Linked DNA regions of Homo sapiens: region 1 is linked to region 2. The links come from fine-mapping of genetic effects on plasma protein levels. Region 2 holds a variant in brackets. A gene starts in the other region. All regions are shown on their reverse strands.

What was found. PIP is the posterior inclusion probability: the model's chance that the variant is causal. Protein levels are from antibody-based Olink assays in UK Biobank. Linkage for the fine-mapping came from a reference panel and not from the study's own genotypes, which makes the PIPs less certain.
Region 1: CRISP3 starts here. The variant in region 2 is fine-mapped to the plasma level of the CRISP3 protein (UK Biobank, PIP above 0.99).

What each region holds. Positions count from the first base shown.
Region 1 is chr6:49,738,057-49,750,200 of GRCh38, reverse strand. It overlaps CRISP3 (cysteine rich secretory protein 3), which reads left to right and starts at 5,813. Exons shown (of 8, transcript NM_006061.4): 1 at 5,813-5,870. The coding sequence starts at 5,834.
Region 2 is chrX:148,500,840-148,508,839 of GRCh38, reverse strand. AFF2 (ALF transcription elongation factor 2) reads right to left here. Exons shown (of 21, transcript NM_002025.4): 1 at 7,696-8,000. The coding sequence starts at 7,742. Among named protein-coding and RNA genes, the nearest start is that of AFF2, 4.2 kb to the right of the region's middle. RefSeq lists an enhancer at 6,686-7,563. The variant C/T (reference allele first, on the strand shown) is at 6,402.

The sequences.
Region 1 (12,144 bases), not on the chromosome of region 2:
CACATTTTTTCATCTTAACTGACTTATCATTAGCAAATATCTAATATAAGCCTCCATGTACCAGAGACTGCCTCTCTTCCAAGTATAACTGTAAAGAAACTGAAAACAAAGAGTAACCTTTCTGTTAATAATAGACTCCTCTCTAGGACTCTATTACTACCAACCAAGTTGTGTTGGTTGGTAGGAATTTAAATTAGTACAGCTATTATGAAAAACATTATGGAGATTCCTATAAAAATTAAAAATAGAACTACCATATTATCTGATAATGCCCCTATTGGATCTATATCCAAAGGAAGTGAAATTAGTATGTTGAAGAGATATCTGCACTCCCATGTTTATTGAAGCACTATTCACAATAGCCATGATAAGGAAGCAACCTTATGGATATGGATAAAGAAAGTGGGATATATATATATATCACATTTTATGTGTGATATATATATGTCACGTACACACACACATACACACACAATGGAATACTATTTGGTCATAAAAATAAAATAAGAAAATCCTGCCATTTGTGACAACATGAGTGAATCTGGAGGATATTATGTTAAGTGAAATAAGCTAGACACAAAGGACAAATGCTGTATGATCTAACTCATATGTGGAATCTAAAAAACTTCATGTCAAGAAAACAGTAGAATGCTGGGCATTAGAGCTTATGGGTGGGACGTAAGAAGGCATGTTGAGATGTTGGTTAAAGAACACACATGTACAGTTTGGAGGGGAGTAAGTTCAAGAGATCTATTTTACAGCGTAGCAATTACAGTTAATGGCAAATATTATATTCTTGAAAAGATGCTAGAAGAGTGGATGTTAAGTGTTCTCACCACAAAAATAAAAACTAAGAAAAGTAACGCATTTGTTAGTTATCTAGATTTAACCATTCCACAATGTATTTATACAGTAAGTCCTCATTTAACACAGTCAATACATTTTTGGAAACTGCGACTTCAAGTGAAACAACATACAGCACATCTTTTAATAACATCGTTTTTTTCAACATCATATCATTATAATGTCAATGAGAAAAAAATGCTGTTTTTATGCATCATTTTCCAGGACCTATTTGTGATGTATGAGGACTTACTCTACTACAAGACATGTTGTTCATTATAAATACATACGATTTTGTATGTCAATTTTAAAAATAAATATGTACATTGAAAAAAATCAAAGTTGGATTTGTTAACTTCATTCGGGCCCAAAGTTTGTTCATCCATTAATACCAACTCATCTCCAATTTTTGGTATATAAACATCTTTTATTTACCCATAAAGTGTATTCCTCTACTTGAATTCTTACAGCCATTACAATGGGCAATACAGATATTATCACCAATCACGTGGATTCATATGTTTTTCTACAGTTTTTTTTTTTCACATGCTAGTCTTACTGCTTCAGTAACTCAGGGACAGAATTTTTCAGTTCTCTTAGCACTCAGGTTAGTACAGTCAAAAAATGTTTTCTACACACCAACATTTTGATCCTCACAACACTAGGTATTATTTTTGTCTCTATTTTACAGGCAAGAAAACAGAATTGGATTAAAACCAAGACTAGCAAGAGTCAAGGACTTAGCAAACAAATACATCCAATTAGTGAAAGAAGCAAGACAGAGCCTTGTTTTCCCTTTTCCTTAAACAGAGACATACATAATTTTAAATATGGAAGGACTTTTTAAGTTATTTTGTCTGCTCCTTCACTTTTAAAATGAGATAAATGAATCATGTGATCATGATAAGCACCTTCACTGTTTTTTACATCATCTTTATAATATGCAACTATTGTAATAATGCAAATATTATCCCATATTATGGTGGATGCTGTTTAGGTATTGCACAGAGATCCCATCCCAGAGGCAATGCTTCTGTCCCCCAGATGTTGTGAGAATTAGCTACTGTGCCCACATCTGCCCCCTCTCAAGAGAATTGCCTTTGGCAGAGGAGAACCACCTTGTCATCTCCCCACTGTTACTAATGACTGACTGTTCATAGGTTTAAAAAGGCTGTCTGCAGCACTGCCTCTATTAATCAGGGAAGACTAGATTTTACCTGAGAACACATTCTTCTTTAGCTCTTTGTCCTCCCCTGACCTGCTTCACTCTTTTCCTTTCTGCTGCAATGTACTTCCTCAATAAATCAGAGCCAATGTAATTTGTGTCTCAGTGTATTTCTTGCAAACCTGACCTAAGATCGTGTGATCTTATATGGGTGTGTGCATGTGTGTTTGTGTGTGTGTAATAAATAATACACTGAATGGTGAAACACATAAATAATTTATAATTCTGATATTTCACTCATATAATTAGGCATTGAGTGACAAAAAGTAATCAGGATATTAACCAAAGGGACTGAGGAAGCAAGAGAAAAATGCAAATAAATTGACACACAGACTATACCTTTCTTGGAAATTAATAAGTCACTAAATTAAACCATTATATTAAAGGATAATTCAACAAAACAACAACTGATTTATAAATCTACTATTTATTAATGAGAGCAGAGTAAAATTAATTCTAATTCTAAAATGCACCTGAGTCTGTGCTCCTTAATTTATTGGTGAGGATACAGAAAATGAGAGATGCTCAATCATTTTGTTAAAGTCACCCTGACAGGCTTTGATAGAACTGCACCTTAAACACTTGAATTTCTGGTTAAACTATGATTGTTTCCTAAATACCTAAAACAAGAAAGACTTCTTATAAAGACTCCTGAATTGGCAGTTCAATCAAACAAAATGCATTCGTGGAAGACTTTTATGTACTCAGGAAATACCAGGCTTTGGAAGGGATAATAATACAAATGTTAATAATTCCATTTATTGAGTGTCACATGCCAAGCATCGCACTAATAGTTTAATTATGTATTCAGTACATTTTTATACACAAATTATGCTTTTCAGTCATTAAAACCAACGTATGATATGAAAATTCACATTTCAGAGAAGAGAAAACTGAAGCTCAGAAAGGATTTCTCAGACCTGGCAATTTCCAAAGACTGTAATCAGTAAACTATAGGTAGTTGGTAATAATGGGGAAGTAAAAGTCATAAAAAGCTGGGTCAAGAGTTCAGCTGTAAGGCAGGGATCCCAGTTGCCCTTGTAATAACTAGTCAGTTTTGGGTGGTCAGTGTAGAAATCCCAGGAAGGCAGCATTCAGATGTTGTTGTATCTAAGATGAGAGAAGGGCTGACTAGGAAGAGATGGAAGCTGTGCTTTATTTATTCATATTATAGACAATCTGGTTACACTGTACTAGTCAAAGCATAGGAATAGAAGAATAATTTTAAAGAGTAAGAAAAGGAGCATTCCTAAAACAAAATGTAATGATTAATAGCAACAGTCGCTAAGAGACTCATTGATAAGTTTCAATAGAATAGTGGGAATAGATTAAAATGTATATACAGGAACAAACTATTTGCTCTTTTAAGATGGAACTTAGATATCCAAATAAGAGCTGGAAGACACTCACTGCTAAAATTGGGAGACATGGATCATGAAGGGCCAGCAATGACCTTGGGACACGTAAATACAGAAAAGACAACCTAATCATGGGAAATGAGAGAACAAAGGTGACTAGAAACAGCCATTTTGGACACTTAAGGTCAGATTGAAGTCAGTCTGTCAGTCCAACGTGTGTATGGTATTTTGTGACCCAAAAAGACCACATATACTTATTTAGCTTAATAATAAATGTACCAATATTTGACAAGCAAAATGCCTTCTACATCATGGTGCATCTAGTGGTCATTTAGTCATAACTCAGTAAAAAGTTAGAGAAAAACTATCAAGTTTGAATAATGAGGCAAAAATATTTTTCCTTTTTATACTGTTTTGTGTCTACTTATGGTAATTTCTCACAGAACTGCCTATAGCTTAGTAAGTCAAACCATGTCCTAAAACTCAAGTGCAATCCCACAGCTTACAAATATTAGGGGTAGGTTTGTCTAGATACAGAAGAAAAGTGCATAAAGTGGGAGAGAATTAACACTGGAAATACTTACTACATGGCAGGCAGCTTACATATATTATGTATCACAATTAAATACAATTAATATTATTCCCATTTATGATAAATATGAAAATTTACAATCAGAATAATAATTTCCTAATAAAGTAGGTGCTGTGGCTCATGCCTGTAAGTCCAGAACTTTGGGAGGCCAAGACAGGAGGATTGCTTGAAGCCAGAAATTCGACACTAGCTGGGCAACATAGCAAGACTCTGTCTCTACAAAAAAATTTAAAAAATTAGCTGTGTATAGTAGTGCACACCATGGTCTCAGCTCCTTGGGAAGCTGAAATAGGAGATCCCTTGAGCCCAGAAATTCAAGGCTACAATGAGTTCTGATCTAACCACTGCACTCCAGTTTGGATGATAGAGTGAGATCCTGCTTCAAATAAAATAAAATATGATATAAAATAAAATAATAAAATATAAAAATTTCCCAATACACATTGGTATAGAAATTTAGCCCATTTCCATTAAAACAGAAATATCAAGCTTTTAACAACATTCTACACCACTAAGTAGAGAAGAGAATGGGCTGTGGATGCTTCTGGGTCTGGTCCTTCCCCACAAAATACATTTTGCCACAGAAAGAGGATTGTGTAGAAGGTTGTTCCATGGTGATTTTTTCCACATAGCTGATTTGGTTTATTGAGAGCTTCCACTTCACATGTTCATAAAGTAAACAGATTCTAGGAGTTACTTGGAGACATGGCAGCAAATGGTTAACCATTTTTTAATGGTAAAATCTGACCTGAGTTTCTGAGTTCTCAACTCTCTTATAACAGACATTTAGAAGTATCCAATTCTTGAACTCAAAATTAACTATAATTTTAAAATGTGCCTATTGTGTAGACATTGATCTGTGATTATACATTTTGTCACATTGATCAATAAAGCTAAATATAAAAATGAAAATGAACAGAAACTATTGAATTATGCACCACAAGGTGCAATCTATATGCCAATATGAGCATGCAGAAATGTCTGCGTGCTATGTATATGCTACTTGTGATTTATTAATTTATACTTCTTTATTTATATAAACTCAATATTTAAGATTATTGTATTTTAGAATCAGAGGAAATCTGAAATTGTTAGTCCACCCCACTTCATTATTGTGCTATGGAAACAAGCCTGGAATGATTGACATCTTCCATAGATGAACAGAACCAAATAATGATAATTTAGCTTGGAGATCAATATTATCTTTAATTTTATACAACCAGAAAATACAAGTAAATACAGCACATCTTTGAATATAGAAATACCAATGAGTTATGGTGTGTTTGGCCATTGAGTTCTGAAAGTCACTGTGGCCTTGTATTTACAAACATTAAAGATAAAATTATTATCCAAAACAGTAATGTCCAATAGATTATTAATAAACATTTTAGATAGCTGTAAAAAACATTGTGTTCTCTAGAGTTCATAAAAATTATGAGCTTAATTTCAATCCAACAGAAATAATTCTGAAAACTCTAATGTTGTGATGCTAATAATTGGGCTAAGAATTTTCAAACTATTGACTGGCAAAAACATGGATAAATTGTAATATATGAACTTCAAAGAATAAATGCACAATTACAAAACTTGATATAGCAATTTATTTTTAAAAGCCATTTGAGGAATCACCAAATAATTTCAAAATCATGACTAGAAAACCAGCAATGAAATTTGAGACTACTGGTATGACAAATCCTGTTTCAGGCCTTGTTGATCTAGAGTTACTTGCACAACCAGAATTTGCCAAAACAGGAAATAGGTGTTTCATATATACGGCTCTAACCTTCTCTCTCTGCACCTTCCTTCTGTCAATAGATGAAACAAATACTTCATCCTGCTCTGGAAACCACTGGTAAGTGATAACTCCTTTATTTCAAGGTGAACATTATTTATTTCAAGGTGAACAACACATTTATACCTTATCAATGATAAAGTGATATATTCGTATATTTTATCTACAATTTTCCAAAGTTTATTGATAACTTTTAATGAGAGTAATTATCTTAATATATTCATTTTAAGCTGAGAAGCTAATACATAGACAGCTTTATTATTCCAAAAGCACTTTTATCCAGTTTGAAATTTAAATAAATTTTTACCTTTCATTCTAAAGTAATATAACTAATTCCCATGTCTATGACTTGTGGAAACAATTGTACTAGAACTATTTTTAATAGAAAAATGAAAAACTATGAATATATGTGTGTGCATACTTTCACATCAGTAACTTTTACTAATATTAAAACATACAGCTATATGGGATGCCATAGCAAAAGTTTTAAATTGGTCAAAACAAAATTATAGCACTGATCTCAAGATTAAAAAGTATTTTATTAAAGACCATCAACATAAAATGCAATTTACCTCATGAAATGCACTCAGATCAAAAACAAAAAAAAAAGGCTTTTAGAAGTTTTTCAGTCAAAAGTCAGTCTACTCAGTCATGTTTATGTAGGTAATTTAAATATAATATCTATCGTGCATATTTCATCTAAGGAAGCAATTTCCACATACGGCTTTATCTTCCGTAGCATATTAGAAGTGATTCTGAAGAGTCAGATAGTAGGAGACCACAGAACTACCTAATGACAACATGAAAGGGGTTATTTACCACTAGACAGAAGATTTTAAAGTAAAATGCTTTTCTTCCCTGTGGCTAAATGCTATCCAGGAAACTCTGGGAGTATTTGCAATAGCCATAGAAGATCCGGTGTTGCCTCTTCTGCTAGTTAAAACCAAATCTAGAATGTCTGCCTGTATGACTAAGACCTCTGAAAGTGGATCAAAAGAAATTAAATTGATGACAAGTTTCAAGCCTGGGAGTTACCCTACATTGATAAGTTATGAGGTAAATTGGGGCTTCTGATTTGTAACAGGCAGGGATGAATTGGGAGGAAGAGTGTCAGAATTCTCAAGTAATGTAAATCTGATAATTGCTATGAATTTCAGTTACGTTATTTATTGAATTCAAGTAAAAGGGAGGGAATTCATCCTTGAAAAAAAAGTGCTTCTCAAGAAATGCAAGACAGCTATTCTTATTTGGATATCTTTACGAATTTCTTACTTGATGAAGTCTAGCAGTTTTGCAAACTTTGCATATTGGCATAGGCTGCTTTCTGTATCACAGATACATAATAAGATGAAAGAAAGTGATCAGAATAAAGATTAACTATTAAATTTTAAGTAAGAAAATATTGCATCAAATACTTTTCTGTGCTGTGACTAGTTTATAAATGTGTCTATACCTATAGTGCACACATTATACTCACATGTGTTAATGCTTTTGACATCTTTTCTAATCCACGTAATCCTTTAAAATATTTCTATAGTCTGTTCTTCCTCCTTTGCTTTTTAATGTTACGATGTTTGGTCTGTCTCTTAAGTTTTGTATTTTCCTCCACCAGTTGATTTATCTGTTCCTACAATAATATTAAATTTTTGTCAACAAATGTTTGAAGTCTATCTTAATAACTAATATGAAAAGATAACCCAATTAATTCTTTCTTTTTTTTCTTTTTCTTTTCTTCTTCCTTTTTTTTTTTTTTTTTTTTGAGATGGAGTCTTGCTCTGTCGCCCAGGCTGGAGTGCAGTGGCACACTCTCGGCTCGCTGCAACCTCCACCTCCTAGTTTCAAGCAATTCTCCTGCCTCAGCCTCCCCAGTAGCTGGGATTACAGACATGCACCACCATGCCCGGCTAACTTTTGTAGTTTTAGTAGAGACGAGGTTTCACCATGTTACGCAGGGTGGTCTCAAACTCCTGAGCTCAGGCAACCCACCCTCCTTGGCCTCCCAAAGTGCTAGGATTACAGGCATGAGCCACTGCGCCCAAGCAATTCTTCTTTTAAAAGTTTACTCAGTTATTCATAAGCCACTTAAAATTTGTATTGGAATTAAAGTAAACAATTATCAGGTTAGTTTAGGATTGATATCTTTATGCTAACATGTACCATTTAAAAGCATTACAAAACTCTCAATTTATTCAGAACTTCTGCTATGTTCTTTATTAAAGTTTTAAGATTTTTTCCAAAAAGGATTTTTAAATTTGTTTTGTTGTTTCCCAGATACTGTATAGTTTTTTTAACTGTTATAAGTGTTTCTTAAATCTTATATTCTAGTTGAGTGTTTCCAGTAATAGAAATGGTATTTTTGTAAGTTGATAGTGCATCTAGCAAAATTGTTAATTTTGGTGTGTTCTCCAGATAGATGATCTTATCATTTGAAAACAATAACAATTTTACGTCTTCTCTTACAAAAGTTACAAATATTTTATATATAATAATATATTTTATATTATTATATATAACATAAAATGTATACATTACATTACTTGTATATATTATATATATATATATGTATATACTTTCTTTTCTTATGGCTTTGATTAGGATCTCTCCAGTACTGTGTTAAATAAAAGTGTTAGTCATTCTTTTCTTGTTCCCAATATTAAATGAAATGCACCTAGAATTTCTCCAATAACCATTATATTGGGTATAGATTTGCAGTATATGCTTCCTACCAAAGTAATGATCTCTTCTATTTTTTCTTTAAAAAAAAAAAAAAAAAAAAAAACTACATACAGGGGTTGAATTTAATGACGTATTTTTTGTCATATTACTTTGCTTTAGTCTGTTAATGTGATGAATTTTACCAATGAATTTTCTAATTTTGAATTATTCTTGCAGTCCTCATATAATTTTACTTGGTCATGATATTTTTAATATATTTTTGAAATTGATGAGTTAATATTTTGTTAGGATTCTTGCAATTCATTTATGAAGTGGGCTTATGTATTATTTACTATTATTCTTACGTCTTTTATGAGTCAATCCCGGAATTATATCCACTCCTCAGATTACATTTCAGGAAAAAACAGCATTGGGAGGAAGTAGTCAAGCTAATTTGAACCATACAACACTAGGGAGTAAGAAGGCGTGAGTATAAGAGCACTGGAGAGTGCTATCACACATGACCTTATTATCATTGGTTCTTCACACAGGATGGTACTTTCGTTTTTTGTTTTTTTTTTTTTGGTGGTTTTTTTTTGTTTGTTTTTTTTGTTTGTTTGTTTTTTGTTTTTTGTTTTTTTTGAGACGGAGTCTCGCTCTGTCGCCCAGGGCAGTGGCGCGATCTCGGCTCACTGCAAGCTCTGCCTCCCGAGTTCACGCCATTCTCCTGCCTCAGCCTCCCGAGTAGCTGGGACTACAGGCTCTCGCCACCATGCCCGGCTAATTTTTTGTATTTTTAGTAGAGATGGGGTTTCACCGTGCTAGCCAGGATGGTCTCGATCTCTTGACCTCGTGATCTGCTCACCTCGGCCTCCCAAAGTCCTGGGATTACAGGCATTAGCCACCGCATCCAGCCCCACACAGGATGGGTCTTACAGTTCTTCGATGCTACTTTGCTGACACATAGCACTAGAGCAAGCGTTTTTCTGTTGTTGCAGAATTTTGCAAATAAAGAGGAATCGATTGTTTTGAGGCAAGAGTAGAAACTAACAGGCATTACTTTAGACCAACCACTGCTGTTGGATGCAGCACTCCCCTCTCCTTCACATTCACTATACACAACACACACACACACACACACACACACACACACACACACATCCATATACACATTCTAGAAGTCATGAGAGACTTTATTCTCCTCAGATTTTCTCACTATCTTTTCAGTATTTTCTTGGAATCCCTGTTTCCCTCTTGCTTCTATAATTTTTTCAGAGTTAATTTTGGGGTGGCAGCAAGAAGCTTGCTTATTTTGATATTGTGCCTGAAATAAAAGCCAAAGGCTTGCTTTATAAATAGACCATTTGATTAATTCTTCTCTTAGCACTAAGCAAATTTGTCCTACTTCCTAATTTGCAAATCCTTATTTCCACAAAATGGACTGTTAAAGCCAGATATGCCTATAGAAGTTTTTGTAGATATATGTTGTCAGTCAATATGCAGTGATATCAGGTCATTTGATAAAATGATTTCCTTTTCCAAGGGAGTGTTTCAAACATACCAGTGGTCCTAACATCAGTGTGAAGAAGGCACAGTATGTTACAGTTTAATTGTATTATATACATTTATGCTTCAGAAAGACACAATTTGCTCTGCTGTAGATCTGGAATTAGTAGCAAACCATCACTATTTGAAATCATAAATCTTTGAAATCCAGGGACTTGGTTTTTCTCTAATCACACTTGAGATAAATTATTAATTTCTTTGAAAAAGGAAAACCAGAACAGAACAGAAAACCATATAAAAGGTAGGACTCAGTGACTTACACATAGCAAAATAACTCTTTCAAGTGAAATGAATTAAGAGAAATCTACTGCTTATTTCCAAGGAATAGTAGAAAATAATGTATAACTAATACACTTAGAAATTGCTTCATGGAAGTGAATGACAGGAGAGGCTATTTTTTTTTCATTCTTTCTAGTACCTTCTATGTGACGCTACTACTAAATGGAATTGCAAACAAATCATTTTCCACTTGCACCTGCTATTTACAGTAGTCCCTTGGGAGGAGAGGTGGGGATGGAGTGAAATATTACAGCGACTCTCTGTCACCATTATTGGTCTTAAAGCTGATGTTACATCTTTATCATATTTATCTCATTCAAGTTGTTTACTCCCTGAGCCCTGAATTGTGCTAGATTCTTCCCCATCTCTCTCCATAAAGCATTGGAATGGATCACTGTAAAAGGAAATAAAATTTTACTCTCCTCTTTTGCACACATGAGAAAATTCAACCAGCTCCCCCTCTGGGTACTTGAATGATGAGCTCCCGTAATTATATACCAGGACTCTGAGGGCAAGAACCAAGTCTTGTTCACTTGATCATGTGCAGCAATATTATAACATGTTATCCTGAATAGAGTGTACAAAACTTGATAAATGTCTCCTAAAGGAAAGAAGAATACCTAATTGTCTTTGACTTACAAATGAAAATAAGAATCTGTTTTTCCTCTTTTGCTCTCAAATTCTGCAGGAGACGCACTAGAGGGCCCATCTCTAAATACAGCACACTAGGAGTTAGGGCATCAACATATTGATTTAGAAGTGGAAGCAGGGCCAGGTTAAGTTATTTCTGAGTGAGTTTCAAGGTCTATAACACTAGTAGTTTGAAATCTTCTGGAGCTCCAGATCTGCATTCTGGCAACATCATTTTTCGTGGATTCTTTTTTTTTTTCAGACTTCAAGTGTATTTATTAATGCATTGGACAAAATAAAACCACACTTGTTATCAAAAGTATATCTCCCCTGCTCCCATTTTCTTGTTCTTCCATTGGAAATATCTTTGAAAAAGTGATACAAATGGATACCAGCAAAGTCCCATATTTGCGGGGTGATTGTGGGGCGATGCTGGGACGAGATGGTTTGTGACATTGACTTTAATAGCATGAAAATGGGTTTTGCAAGTGTATATCAGGCTGCATCCCAATACTTAGATTCACAGTGGGCGGGGTGGTGGGGTGCAGAGGTGCTGGTTAGGAGAAGGAAAGCTGAATTTAGTGCTGGGAACCAGTCTGGGGTGGAAAGCTCTTCCTCTGGGAGTTCTGTGGGGATTTGGTGTTAGCTAAGTTCATAGTCTAAGGGAGACCCAGTCCCAGCCCCCAGAGCTGAGGTTCAGGAGGAACCAGTGAATAACTAAGAAGGAAGAGCTTTTGTAGGATGAGTCACTACTTCTATTAACGTTCAGTCCAAATCAGAAGGCTAAGGATCTACCATATACTATTTGTTCTGCTTTCTTGTTTTTAAACTTAACACTGAAGCATAAGCTTCTTCTCTGAGGTTACAAAACAACCATAAATGTATAGTGGTTTTTATGTCTAATATACTGCCATAAGAGGATGTATTCTCATTTACTTAGACATTATATCTCCCTATTGCTAGGCATGTAATTAATTTACAATGTTTTAACCCTTATAAATGATAACATGATGAAAATTTTATGCTTAAAACTTTTTAGTATAGTTTATAATTTCAGTAGAATTCTAAGAAGTTGAATTAGTGAGATAAAGAATGTGAACATATTAAGGATATTAATACAGATAGGGTGAGTAATCCCTTAAACATGAGAATCAAATTATTACCTTTTTGTTTTAAGATCCAGAGGAAAAAAATGTTGCCTTTT
Region 2 (8,000 bases):
ACGTCTACACACCAAAGCCAAGCACTTTGGCAGCAAATAAATAATAGCAAATTGATGAGACCTCTCCACGGCACTTCATCAGAAACATCCATCACACTGAGTCTAATTTAGTCACTGTGGTTGTGCCGACCTGGCATGAAAACAATCAGTCCTTTGGAAAATTAATTCATTAAAAAATTTGTTGGCTGACATCCTGAAGGGGGAAATAAAGCCTACGTAATTGCATTTTTCATTGTTCAACAGATAGTCAGGTTGTCATGTACATATTGCCGTAGTCTACAGGTTAAAATGACCTTATAACAACACATTCCATCTGCTTGGTTGGTTTGATCAAACCATACTAGAAACCCAAACACCAAGAAGACATCACAATTTTAGCAAGCAACTTCTTCCAATGATTGTTAAAGCTGAGATTTCAATTTCAGCACCACTACAAAACAAGTAGCATATTATTTTTTACTTATACAAAAAAGAAACCATTTCAAAGCTATTTATTTCCAGGAGATACGTTGCCTACAAAACACAAAAACTGACTCCAGGAAAATGGTTTAATAAAGGTCACCAAGTGAACCAGTATCTGCTACTGAGATCTGGTTTTCATTGAAGATGGTAGATGATGCAGAGAACTATTATTTGGAAATCTAACAAAACAAACTGTTCTCCATAGGATGGAAGTAATGTCTTTTATTTCTCCAACAAACGAAGCATTGGAAAAATAAACAGATGAGTGATTTTGATTTTGTAATGAAAACAAAGCTTGTTTCCTTAGCTTAATCCTCAAAGTGTGGCTTTTACACCTTCATATAAGAGAACGTACCTACTGAAGAACCAAATCGAAGATTACTTTGAAACATTAGCTGATTTTATTTTTCAAATGAAGCAAAATACACAGGTATGTTTGAAAAACAGCATCCCATAAAGTAAGCAATCCATAATCAAAATCACATTCTAGCTATAGTGCTATTGTCAGCTCTGCTTAAATCATGTCATTTTTTTCAGCTCTCAGATAACTTTTTTTCAGCTCAGTAAGTAGGTAGATGTTAGACGCTAAGGTCATCTAAAAGATTTACTTCAAAATAAATTCAACAATTCAGTGCATCACCCTCTCTACGGTGTAAAGTGTGCCTTGCTTTGAACATGCATATAAAATTTCATTAAAGTGTAACATAAAAGTTTTACATTAGAAGAACCCAGGGCTGGACCTTTGTTTAACAGTCATGATAATTTATGGTGTGGATCTGCTACAGTTAAGTAGAAAAACAGCCTTCTCATGATGAAATACAAGTCATAAAGACTGAAACTCAAGGAAAGCTGGAGGAATCCCAACCCTCCGACCACTCATATTTTCCTCAGATTTTTGTTACACATTCTTTATTAATGTTCTCAATGCAGATTGAGACACAATACCAGTCCGTTAATTCCTATAATGCTGTACCTTAAAAGATATTCTTTCCTCTTGTTTTTCTTTTGGGCTAAACATATCTTGGAATTCATAGAAATTCTGTTTCTTAAAAACATGCCAATTACATGGATACTATTTTTGCCTTTTCCTATTAATCTTCTTCTGTATCCATTGGTTATTCTCTTTATTTTCTGCAAAAAGATCAGACTGGCTAAGAGACATGAAAAGAATTACAAATAACTAATATACAATCACACAGGCAGAGGGACAGTATTATCACTAGGATTTAGTAAGTAACTATCCTTGAAAGAGACCTGCATTTGCATGGAACAGTCTTTGAGTCGAATGTGACTGTAACATCAATCAACAGATGTTTATTGAGTACCTCTGATGGAAAAACACTGTGCTAAATGATGCCAGAGGGTGACACACCATTCTCTAGGAAGCAACGTGGATATTTAAATATTAACAACTTAATGCACCAGTGGTGATGCAGCGAAAAGAGCAACAAACACATATCCTAAGACTATTCACCTACTGTGCAAATTCAGGCAAGTAACTTAACCTCTCTGAACTTCCGTTTTATTATCTACAAAATGAAGCTAAAATATCAATCCTAACAAATCTTTAAGGTTATTGTGAGGGTCCAATCAATTAATACATATGGTAAGATTAGAAAGCTTTGGAAAGAAATGTTACCAACTTCCCACCTCCAGTTTTGAGGCTCCAAATGAGCCAAAAAATATACCATGGTCTTCTTTATGTTCAAGTATCAAATCTTCAAAATTTGAGCATTCAGATTTAAATGAACAATTCTCAAGGACTTGAGATTTGTCTCCTTTATATATATATATATAATTTTCCATTCTCACATTTTCATGAAGGGGGCATCCATAAATGACATGCTAAGAGATTGTATCAGTATATAGACTGTTCTCTTTCTAATTAAAAGGAAAAAGCAGAGTTCCATGGCTGGTCAAATTACATGGTAATTCCACAGATTTCTTCCACAAGTACAATATACACAATCCAATCCATTTGTTTCAGTGACGGCTAAATAAATATTCGGATCCACACAAAAAATGAATGAATTTGCCATTCAATAAAATGGCAAGAACCCCTGAACATTCTAACTCACAATGATCAAATGAGATAGCATGTGGAAGAGCATTCCACATGTTGGAAAGGCTCAGACAAAACGTCAGTTGTTGATGATGCAGGCTCTGGAGTCAGCTCCATCTATGCTGAAACCTGGATTGCATCACTGAGTGAGTACCTGTGTGATTTCATTGCTTCATCTGTAAAACAGGGATCATAACAGGTCCTATCTCAGAAAGTTGTTGGAAGGATTAAACGAAATTGAGTCTTTACAGAATTTAGTCCAAGCTTGTGGCACAGAGTAAACACTCAAATTATAGTAGCAATGATAATGTTGAGTTCTACCACAGGTAACACACACACACACACACACACACACACACAGACACACACACTCAAAAAGGTTTCTTCAAGTTTGGTCTTGAGTTCTTTAATCAGTAACATTTCTTTCCATTTATCAGTAAGCAAGTTTTTGAAATCTCTCTTTATCCAACAGCAATCAGAAAAAGAAAAACAAAATTACAAGTGAAAAATGCAGTCACTGCAGCAAAAATTGTTTTGTCTACGTGACAGGCTAATCAAGTATATGGCAGTTTTCCGCTTTGAGGTATGACCTACAGTTACAAGCTCTTAAGGCCACAGCTCTAAATTGTTCCAGAGAAGGCCATTTCATTGGACTTCTACAATTTTGAAATTATGTTAAATAAGTGCAAATTTTGCATGGCAAAATAATCTTAGCTAAGAATCATGGGCATTTATTACATGTTAAAGGTTAGTACATTAAAGCCATTTCTATTCAACAATAATTAGCATGTTTAAATACAATATAATTTGTATCCATCTACAGGATGCTTAAATGTATGGAATCTCATTCATGTCTATAATGATGGACTCATTTTCCAGGCAGTCATTTTCTACCTTGATTTGTATATTTTAAAGTTGTTAAATGCTTGACTGAATCATTAGCAAAACAATTCATGTATCATTAAACTGATTTCTACCATGAGATAATTTTCTTCCGTGTCCAATAGATGTGCCTCTTAAGATGTACTGAGATAGCTTTTATTCTTTGGAGGGTTTGGGGAGTTGCGGAGGAGACCTTACTAGTGAATTTCACCAACTTAAATTTCTCCTACCCACACATTCCCTTAAGAAACACAACCTAAAATGGTTTGTTGAATGAATGCTCAAACACACGGGAGAATGCATACTGTACTAGCAAAGAAAACAGACCATAGGCAGTCTCCCTTTTAAGAGACCACAGAGGGAAAACGGGAAAGATAAATGGATGGAGGTAGAGAACAAGAAATGCTGGGAATCTCTAGGCCTTATTCAAAACAGGACTTCCCCTCCCCCCACCCCACCACAGCCCTAGTATCTCCAAGTTGGCAAAGGTTGTGTTCCCCCCATCTCCCACACCTTCCCATCCATAAACAGTCCTGTTCCGCTCTTCTGGAGGATTGTAGCTAACGAGGCCTCGGAAGACCTGTGCGCACAGAACAGGAGGAGGCAGCCGGGTTGCTGCAGTGCATGGGCCATGCCCGGCTGGAGCTGAAACAGTTCACTTTTGTCTAGAAAGCAGCCCCCCGCCCCTTCTCCGGCACTGCCCCGCCCTCGCAAGGTCGAAGAAAACTGGGGAAAGTGCAGTTCGGACTGCTGGGGCAGGCCCTGGGGGCTGCCTTTACCGGAGGAGGAGAGGCCTGGCCGGCACATGGCCCCTTCTCAGCCTTGACAGCCCCACACAGACCTTTGAACTTTCTATTTATATAACAGTTTAGTGAGTTTAAGTCTCTTCCTGTATAACTGCCCGTTTGCAAGCTTGCCTCTAATTAGGCTATTTGTGAGACATCACATAAAAACTACAAACAATTGATGCTGTCCCTTGCGGTGAGAAGCCAGCCACTGTCACAGTCACTTAACTACGATTTTAACTAGGCTTTTGAACGTTCTGATTTTGCTATCACGGTGGTTTTCTTTTCTTTTCTTTTCTTTTTTTTAAGAATGTGTCCCTTTCTGTATTTTCTTTCTTTTCTTTCCTTTCCTTCCTTCCAATGAAGAAAAGGTAAGCATCCCCACAAAGAACCTTGGCTTGTCACAAAGCAATACCTAATCAATACTGGGTGGGAGGTGCTTACAGAACTGAAAGGCTGTACATTTTGTAGGCCCTCTGAATTTGCTTTTTTTCCCTCTTAAATGGGGATTAATGACATCATTACCTGATCTTCAGTCACCTCAAGTATTCATTTACTTGGTTACCAAAAACAAGTCTATGGAATGATTTAAATGAAGAAATTTGATTTTTTTTTAATTTATCTTTTTCTTTAAGAGCAAGTGATGTCTTTCATGCACACAGACAGACATCTGTGCCATCTTTTTCTTTCACAGAATGGTTTATATTAAATTCAGACTCAGGTGAACATTGCTCATTCATCCAAGAATCTTAAAGAACTTGAGCTTTGGCCCTTTAATCGAGTCCAGAGCATGACCCATTAAGTTATTCTTGCAGTTTGTGAAATCCAGTGGTATGTTCCATTAGGCATGTGAGCATTCCAAAACACTGCACATAACATGCACACTGCAGCATCATTAGTACCCCATCCTTTCCATTTGCATTTGCCCTAACAAATGTGTGTGTTTATAAATGGGCACACACTTTTTGTTTACTACAGTCAAGTGTTTGCAAATAACACATATGCCTGTGTATGTAAAGTCTTTCTTCATTATGTCTAGGAAAATGAGTTTGTTTTTAAGCTGTCCTGATCCATTTATTGTCAGACATCTAGGGTTGCAGTAGAGACAGCTCAGAGCTTACTGTTCCATAAGTGAATGTTAAGAATAAATTCAAGGTAAATAAGATCGTTAACTTTGCTGGTCTTTTTTCCTTTCTTGGCCCTCCTGGGGGCTTGGGGGCGTGGGGAGTGGAGGCCATCACTTTAAGTAGCTATTTACTCCCAAGGAATGGAAGTAAACATATAATGAACACGTAACTGGCATGCTCTGGACTTCCAAAGAGAAGTGGGAAAGGTACCAATTTCCACTCAAGACAATGTCAAGCTTTTTAGTTCATCCACTATTGTCACATTTATGTTCCTTTTCTCTGTGGAGCTATACAAAACACAAAAGCACAACCACATTACAAATGTTTATAAACAGAGATGCATCACGAAGTGTGCCACTCACGAGCAGTAAGAAGGAGAAATTTTCCTGGATCATGTACAGAGGGAAAGGACAGGCTTATTTATGCAGATGCGTTACACTAATTAATCAGTATTTCACATAATATTCACGAAGTGTCCAAGTCTATGCTTCTTAACTGATGTGTCTCAGTTAGGGATCTGGAGGAAAAAAAGGTTTTGCATTTTCCTTAAGATAAGAAAAAGAAAGCCTCCCACAGGGGTGAGGGAGCCTATCATTTTTTTTAAAGAAATCAAACATAAAAGAGTCCATTCCCTTTAAATATGCAATTGCATATGCATAAGATTAAACCGGAATTAATATAAAAAACATGTTTCTAAAAACCTAATACCTTGTATATGTTTAACATTTGAACTATACCCATGAAATTAATTATAACAATGTCTGTTAAATTAACGATGTAACCCACACCACATATTAGGCAAATTGTATGCAAATAGAGTGCTATGGTTATCAGTTGTCTGCAAAATAAATTAGTGAAGCAGAGTAAAGGCTGTGTGCAGAAGCATAATATCTAATTGAGCAATAATTTTATAGTAATTTTTACTTTCAAATAACAGCATTTTTTAATGTAACAATGTATTTCTACAGAGCTGATAAAACCGTGGTATCCAAAACGCCTTATAGATTAATACTGATACAGCATAATTTGCGCTTCAAGGATTTATCCGGAATTGCTGTAAAATAAAATGTATTTAAGTTCTGA[C/T]TATCTTGGATTTGCAACTAAAGGAGGCATGATTGGCATAATGAAGCTGTTGGCTAAGCATATGACCCTTTTTTAAAGAAGGAAATTGCCTAAAATATCACATCAACAGGGGAAATCCTTGTAAAAATACACAGCATTCATAACCAACGGCCGCTAGTAGTTTAACATTGCAAAAGATTTCGCACTATTGGTAGGTACTACAGATCATTCTAAATACATTTTAAAAGGCAATAACCAAGAATGCAATTTTAAGCGGTTACCACTGCGCCCCCTCCCCATCTAATTCCTTAGACTGCGGGGGGAATCTGATACGTTTAAGTATTATGACAAATAAACTGTGATAATGTTTGTAGTAGGTGAAGTTTTTGAAAAGTTAATAGATATGTATATCAGTATTTATGCACACGCGCACGCACATCTCTAAGAGAGTTAACAACTTTCCAGGTCCCCAGTCACCTTTCTACCATCTTTCAAAATGTCTCAGCGACAAGTTTAGGGTATTTTGTGAAGAGCTGACTCAACCTTTGAATCTGAGCTGGAGGTCCCTTACAAAAAACTACGGCTGCCTCCCAGTGGGAGGCCGAAGGGGGTCCATCCGGTAATTAAATGTGCATTGACATCAGAGCTGCGGATTTGGGGGGCCAACTCCGAAAACCCTCAGTCTTGAAAGCCAAGCGCCGAAGTCGGCCTCGAACCAAGGTCCCCTGAGTGGTGGCCCCCAAAGCCGCTGCTCCACCCGGGAGTGCAGGGAACTTGGGCTGAGTCGGCAGAAGGAAAGGTGTGCGCGCCGCGCAGCGCAGGGATGGAGGTGGCGGCAGCGGGGGCGGTGGCCACCAAGGAAGCAGAGGGCTGCTGGCCGCACCTGGCCGTTGCCTTTCCCCCATGGCCCGCCGCGGGCGTTGGGCACCTGGAAAGTTGAGACATTTCGGGCGGGCGGCATCCGGGGCTCAAGGAGGCCAGACCGGCAAGCCGCTCCGAGAGAAAAGCTCCTGGGAGGTCGTGCGGTTCAGCCCTCGGGCGGCACCGAATTCGATGTGAGCCAAATGCAACTCTTTAGACTTGGAGCGCAAAGCGACGCTTTCGGGTCCGCATCCCTCCCTCTTCCCGCACCTCCCCCCACCCCGGCATCCGACCTAGGAGTCAGCGCGGCCGGGGCCAGAGGTGGCTGAGAGCAAGTGGGAGGGAGTCCGGGGCGCCCCCCACGACAGCTTCAGCTCCTCTTAACAAAGGCGAAAACCTCAGACTTCGCCAGGAGACTCGCTCATCAAAGGAGAAGGCAAAAATCAACACCTACCACTGCTGCTCCAAGTCCCAGTCTCTGAAAAAGTCGAATAGATCCATAGCGGCCAGGCGGCGGCGGCGGGCGGGCGCCTGTCCCTGATCGCAGCGGGTCGGCGCGGCTCTCGGCACAGCTCGCTGGCGGTTCTCGGCGGCCCCCGGCTCTCCAGCCCTCCCGCCCAGCTAAAAGTGTCCGGGCCGCATCGGCAGCAGCAGCGGGCGCTGGAGGTGTCTGGTCCTGTGCTCCGGCGAGGAAGCGGCGGCAGTGGCACTGGGCGGGCAAGCGCCTGGTCGCCCACTCGGGTCCGCTCGGTCCGCGGT